Homo sapiens: one gene and its partner. The protein of the gene in region 1 purifies or fractionates together with the protein of each later gene. This does not show direct contact. Each region holds a gene or a part of one and is shown in the gene's direction. Other genes may lie near its edges.

Evidence for each region. Proteins that work in one complex are often made in the same cells at the same time.
Region 2: the proteins of LYRM4 (region 1) and DDAH1 purify together in Homo sapiens (affinity purification with mass spectrometry; one large-scale study listed by BioGRID and IntAct). This does not show direct contact.

What each region holds. Positions count from the first base shown.
Region 1 is NC_000006.12:5,215,951-5,219,450, reverse strand, and holds part of LYRM4 (LYR motif-containing protein 4), read left to right. Parts: intron 1-2,712; coding exon 2,713-2,833; intron 2,834-3,500.
Region 2 is NC_000001.11:85,322,160-85,325,659, reverse strand, and holds part of DDAH1 (N(G),N(G)-dimethylarginine dimethylaminohydrolase 1), read left to right. Parts: intron 1-776; coding exon 777-920; intron 921-3,500. UniProt on the Homo sapiens protein: Hydrolyzes N(G),N(G)-dimethyl-L-arginine (ADMA) and N(G)-monomethyl-L-arginine (MMA) which act as inhibitors of NOS. Has therefore a role in the regulation of nitric oxide generation.

The sequences.
Region 1 (3,500 bases):
AGGAGGGAACCATTACAGCATTCATCTCGAAAGTGCATCGAAAATTTGAATCATGACTCTTGATTGCTTTAGACACATTTAATTCCAAGATCTAGAGCTGCTTTTCTTTAGGTAAGGACTTTGGAGAGCTGGGGAGACAAACAAGTATACATAGCAGAATATCCTGACCCTGGGCCTTGAGCTCAGTTGATATAAATTGTTGAGTGTTTTAAGCTATTTTCTCATTTCCTTAAACTTTGGAAGACCTTAGGTCTTTACATTCCAAACAGTACTCCTTTTTTCCTAGCTATTCTAAGCTAGTTACTAGCTTTTAGAAAAATGAGTTTAGCAATAGCTACTGTTGCCCATTTTGTTTTTCCAAGAAGCCCATGCAGCATACGAAATGAAAAATTTAAACAATAGATGATTCCTGGAGGTAAATTCATGTTATAAACCAATTTTGCCTGTGGAACAAATATTAGAATTAAATTATTTTGTCCCCTCTTTGCTGCCATCATTGCCAAAAAAGAAACTGCTTTGGAGGAGTATGTGGTTGTCAAGAAGAACAGTGATGCTGTGTTTTATAAATAGCCATTAGGCTATGCAAGAAAGTGCCAGAAATTGCTGTTAATTTACCTAGCTGCTATCTAAAATCTTGTTAGATTAGCAGCTGCACCTGAGGAGAGTCTGTATCTGATGTATTCCATTTGTAAAATCCTCCCATATCCCTTTAGAAGTGAATGAGCCCCAGTTATTTAGCAGCTGCTAGTACATGGATTCCATGCCCAATCGCTGTAGCCCTTTAGGATTGATACTGAGCGCTCAGCAGCTCCTCTGAAATACTCCAGCTGGTTCACAGAGGGTTAAGATCAAAGTCTCAGCAGTGTCTTACATTCTAAGTACCGGTTCCTAAACTCTTCCCTTCTCCTTTATGATTCCTAGTATCATAAGATTTAGTTTTACTCTTGCTTTTAAATGCAAATAGACCTGACATTTGAATTTTTTAATGTAAAATGCCTTTTTACTTTAAAAAACTTTATCTGAAACAATTTGTCCTTTTTAAGATAAAGTTTCCCAATAAGTTATATGAGCTCCCAACACCCCCTCCGCGCTGCTCCCAAGGAAATTTATATCCCCTCCTCTCATTTCTTTGCCTGTATTTCCATTCTTCTGTTGCTAAATATTACTACTGGCATCACATGGATTCTTTAACCGGTGCTCCAAGTTAAAAGCAGAGCAGTCTGTGATCATTAAGAAGACGAGAGAGCCAGGCACTGTGGTGTGTGCTTGTAATCCTAGCTCCTTGAGATGCTAAGGCAGGAGGATAGCTTGAGCCCAGGAGTTTAAGACCAGCCTGGGCAACGCAGCAAGTCCCCATCCCCCAAAATTTTTTTTAATTAGCCAGGCGTGGTGGTGGGTGCTTATAATCCTGGCCACTTTGGAGGCTGAGGCAGGAGGATCACTTGAGCCCAGGAGTTTGCAATTGCAGTGAGCTATGATCATGACACTGCCTGGGCAACAGAGGGACACCCCATCTCTAAAAAAGAAAAAAAAAACATAGAGAAAATGGTGTCTCACATGCCTGGCTCAGTCTGCTTCTCCTTAGTCTTATGCCTTTCAATCTGGAGTAGTTGGGGTAGAGCTAGAGATAGGCCATAGCCATCTGAGTATGAGGCTGTGTCTAAGGACTGCTGAGCTGTCTGTTGTGGCTAATTATCCACACCACTCTACCTTCTGTACACACACTATGGTGTGACTGTAAGGATGCAGGATGAAGGCAAGGTTATGGCATGAGGAGAGGGAACAGTAATTGCATTAAGGCATAACAAGTGTTAAGAAGAATAGCTTTCATTTATTGAGTCTTTCTATGTAACAGGCTTTGGGCCAAATTCCAGACACACATTATAAAGCCTAGTCCTCCCAGCAGCCTTTAGCAGTATTATGCCTTTTTGACAGATGAGGAGACACGGCCTTGTGTTAAGAAGCTTGCCCAAGTTCACACAAACAGTAGAAGCTGGAGCAAGGCTACAAACCCAAGCCTGTCCGATGGGCAAGCCTTGCTCTGGAACTGCTGTCCTGTACTGCAAGTGAGCTGTCTGGTTGGGGGTGGGTGGTAGGCGTGTGCACTTTCAAGATGGAGGTAAAGAAAGCGTGTTGGCCTAATTCCACAGGTTCAACTGTGGTGGGATCCTAATGTGGACAACAGAAAGGGAAGTGAGAGCCAGAATATGGGACAAGGACTGGAAAGCATAGGTCACTATCTGGGTACATGCAAATACGATCGTCATGTAACCTCTGAATTTTTTCTTCCTTTCTTTTAAGACAGGGTCTCGCATTGTCGCCCAGGCTGAAGTGCAGTAGCACCATCATGGTTCACTGCCGCTAACCTCTGAGTTCTTGATTTGTCTCTGTACACTAAAGGTTCAATTATCCATGTAAATGGAATGAAGCCAGATGTGAATAAGGCTAAAGAACCAATAATCTAAGGAACACTTCAGTAGCAGTTTGCCATTTGTATGTGACTTGTTGAGTAGATTTATTTTCCTAAATCTGTTTGCTTAGTCATCCCAGAATGGTAGTGGATCAGCCTGCGCCACGAGCAAAGATCAAAGTGGATTATCCGTAGGGGAAGATTAAACAGTTAATTCTAAAGGAAAAACTTTAAAATTCATTTGAAAGCATAGCCTCAGACACGCTGACACCTTTTCTTTTTTTTCCTCTGAATTCATTTAGAACATATGCTGTCAGGAGGATAAGAGATGCCTTCAGAGAAAATAAAAATGTAAAGGATCCTGTAGAAATTCAAACCCTAGTGAATAAAGCCAAGAGAGACCTTGGAGTAATTCGTCGACAGGTAAGATGGTTCAATGATGTACTGTTTTTCATTAAGAGCTTTAAACTTCGACATATTCCCCTTGATTAGACAGCCGTGCTTTTGGTGTTGGTGATTTACAGAGCAGGATCATGAAACTCTGTTCCTTGTACTAATACAGACATGTAAAGGTGAACTCTCATATTTTCAGATTCAAGTTGAACTTAAAATACCAGCTTTCCGGAATTTCCAGGGAGTGTATCCTTCTGGAAAGCTGATACTTTTAAGTATGAGAAACTTCTGCATTAATTTTTTTGAAAGCTAAGTTTTTGTAAGATGTATCGCACATGTGTACTTGGATATATTTCAGAGTATAAATATATTCTCCCTTTCCTAGTATTTTTAATCATAATTCAGGATAAACAGAACGTGGCCCTTTTCTTGAAGACACCATTGTGGGTGGTGAACCTGAATTACGTTGCCACATGGGAGGTGCATCTGCAGGTGCAGATGGTGTAAAGTACAGCTGCTTGGGTGCTGACCCCATAAAGGAACCTGGAGGGTGTGTTAGTTTTCGTTTTGTGGAAGTGCCAAGGATCACCTTGACTTGTGCTTCCTTTTCTCATTCTCATGAGGTGGGTGGAGCATGTGCAGCGGCATGATCTCCTGCGTGGTCTGATAACATCCGCAAGAGTAATTAGAACGTCAG
Region 2 (3,500 bases), on another chromosome or scaffold:
ATAAGTTCATCATTTGAAGAACAGACCTGCCAAGTAGGTTTTTTTTTTTTTCTCTCCAGTTGTGGTCCAGGGAACCTCTGCCTCAAAATTATCTGTAGGGCTTCAAAATGCAAAATTCCTATGCCTCACCCAAAATCTGCCAAACCAGCTTTCCCTAAGGGTGAGGCCTGGGAATATGATTTTCTTATTCTCCCCAGGTGGCTTTTATGCTCATTGTATTAAGGCCATCACCTGCCAATGAACAGGTGAATTCAGTTTAAAAGTATGTGGAAGAGCAAAGCGTGTGTGTGTGCGCGCGCGCGCGCACGCACGTGCATGCACACACGTGTGGTGTTACTGATTAATCAGATTCACATTATTGACTATTCTGATTACTGGTATGGCCCTTCTTTCCTATAGAGGAGGCAGCCCTGCTTACTCAGCCAAAGATATCAAAACCCCTGCTGGGCCTTACATGTGGCCATTTTGCATCTTACTGATAAGTCTTACGAACAAAGACTAGAAAAATAATAGACGGTTTTAAAACCTTAAAAGAAAAGAGAGACAAACACATACTTTTAAAGAGCAACAAAAACCCTTGCAATTCTTCCAAAGACTCATAGCTTAATCAAGTTTTCCTTTTCTGGTTCTAAGTGACTGGAGGTAATAGATGGGAATTTGAACAGAGGAACAGCCTAAAGTGTCAGTTCCAAGCTTGTATCCTACCACACTGCCTTCCTTCTGTTTGAAAGTGTGGGGAGTTACTCTTCTTAGGCCTGCTTTGTTTCTCTTTATAGATCATGCAACAGATGAGTGACCACCGCTACGACAAACTCACTGTGCCTGATGACATAGCAGCAAACTGTATATATCTAAATATCCCCAACAAAGGGCACGTCTTGCTGCACCGAACCCCGGAAGAGTATCCAGAAAGTGCAAAGGTAAAAAAATATCCCTTCTGACCACTGCAGCTGGGTCAGCCTCCCTGGGGATTTTTTCATAAAGGAGTGACCAATAGGAGCCTCCTTTTCCTGTATACATATCAAACAATTAAGAAAAGAAAGGATAATACAATTTAGGGCACAAGGAAAATGTGTTTCACTTTTCTCATTCATGTCATTGCTCACTAATGCATGCATAGTAATTGAGATGATCATGCCGGGTATTCAAGGCTTTTCAAATAAATACTCAGATTTTCAAATAAGTAGTCACCCAAGTCTATGCCCCAGCTCTGATTAAATGTACTTTCCCACCCTCAGATACTCATTAAGCATAAAGACCTACAATTAGATGGTCAACGGTATCGCTGTTTTCTGACAGATCTGAGCTGTCCCTCAGAAAAGGGCAGCTTTTCTTTTTATTTCTTTTTATTTTTTTATTTATTATTATTATTATTATTATTATTATTTTTGAGACAGGGTCTCACTCTGTTACCCAGGCTGGAGTGCTGCGGCACGATCTTGGCTCACTGCAACCCCACCTCCCGGGCTCAAGAGATCCTCCCACCTCAGCCTCCTGAGTAGCTGGGACTACATGCATATACCACCACAACCTGGCTAATTTTTGTATTTTTAATAGAGATGGGGTTTCATTATATTGCCCAGGCCGGTATCAAATTCGTGAGCTCAAGCAGTCTGCCCGCCTGGGCCTCCTAAAGTGCTGGAATGACAGGCATGAGCCACCATGCCCAGTCCTTTTTTTTTTTTTTTTTTGAGACAGGATCTTGCTCTGTTGCCAAGTCTGGAGTGCAGTGGCATAATCATGTCTCACTGCAGCCTCAAATTCCTGGGCTGAGCAATCCTCCTACCTCAGCCTCCCGAGTAGCTGGGACTACAAGCATGCACCATTATACCTGGCTAATTTTTTATTTTTTGTAGAGACGGGGTCTCCTTATGTTGCCCAAGCTAGTCTCAAACTCCTGGGCTTAAAGGATCCTCCCACTTCAGCCTCCCAAAGTGCACAGGCATGAGCCACCACACCTGGCCATTTGTTTCTTTAGGTAGAGGAGTATGAATGACCCAGAGTGGTGGGTGTTCATTGTCAGGGCTGCAGAAAGAAGAAACTGCCCGTGCTAGGTAGCAAAAAGCTCTTCATTGAAAAGATAGAGCAGGTAGTAATATGGTACACTCGAAATCAGCCAACTGGTCGCTCCAGGAGTCTCTGTGTTTGTGTTCCAATAAGGGAGCTCTCTCTGGATCTGGAATGCTTTTCCTGGTCTAAGAAAATCTCCCTTGTTTTTCAGCATACTCTGCCAGTCTCATCTATATACTTTAGTAATTTCGATTTTACCCTACCAAGCAAACATAACAGTGCTCGTCCATAGATTCTTCAAGTGTCCATATCTTCTAGGCACTCAGCATCTCATCTCTGCCCGGAGGAACAAGATATTTATACTATGCATTACAGAAGAGCCTTTAGTAATCATTGATCTTTTTTTTTTGTCTTAAGCTTCGCAAATATTAGAAAATATTTTATACTACCTTTTAAATATGCAATATGATATAATTACTAGGTTCACTCTCTAATCACAGCCTCTTTCTGAGCAGATAAAAAGAAAAAGGTGAGGGAATACATAGATAATTTTTTCTATTTCCATGGCTGAAAGTGTGAACCTGAGGAAAATAGAGTACTCCTGACCCAGAACTGGGGCTTACCCAGCTCTTAGATGAGTAATGGATCTCATACTTTAATGCACATCAGGGTTGCTAAAAATGCAAGTTCCTGGACCCCCACCCTAGAATCTGCAATATCAACAAGCACCCAGTCACAGAACTCACTTTGAGAAATACAGGTCTGAATCATTCATCCCTCTTTAGCCACATTGATCATCTGACCTACCAGATGATTATTCACTGCCCCCCTGATTCAGCCGTTTGTCTCTCAAAAATAACAATAGTATTAATAATATCCCTGTTTACTGAGGGCTTCCCCGGTGCCAGGCAGGGTGCCAGGCATCCCAGGTGTATTATCTTATTCAGTCCTTGTAACAGCCCTATGGGGGCAACATTACTATTCCAATATTACAGAGAAGTAAACCGAGGCTCAGAGGGAATGTCACTTCACTGAAATAATTCTTTAAGTAGTAGGTTGACAGAACTGGGTTTGGGACCCTACTCTGGCTCCAACACTCTTAATTAACCACTGTGCTGAATTTTAAGAAACGCAGTGCTTCCTAAAGAAGCACAGGAGATTGTTATTAGGCAGTACACTTTCAAGTGATTCTGTTTTTAAAAATATGCTTTGTTTGATCATCACAGAACAATCTATGAACTGTTAATTGAAGTTTTGACATATGCTTTCTATTAGTGTCAAAAGATGCTAATAAAATTCATACCTGTAATTTAAAAGCAGTTTAACCTGAAATACTTAAGTTATATCTTGTCAAATTTTTCCAGCAGTGTTGGTAAGAAAATAAACCTAAAGTATAGTTGAGAGGGTTTTAAACTGTGAAGAGAAGGCCTAGTGTGGTGGCTTATGCCTGTTTAATACCAGCACTTTGGAAGGCCAAGGCAGGATGATCA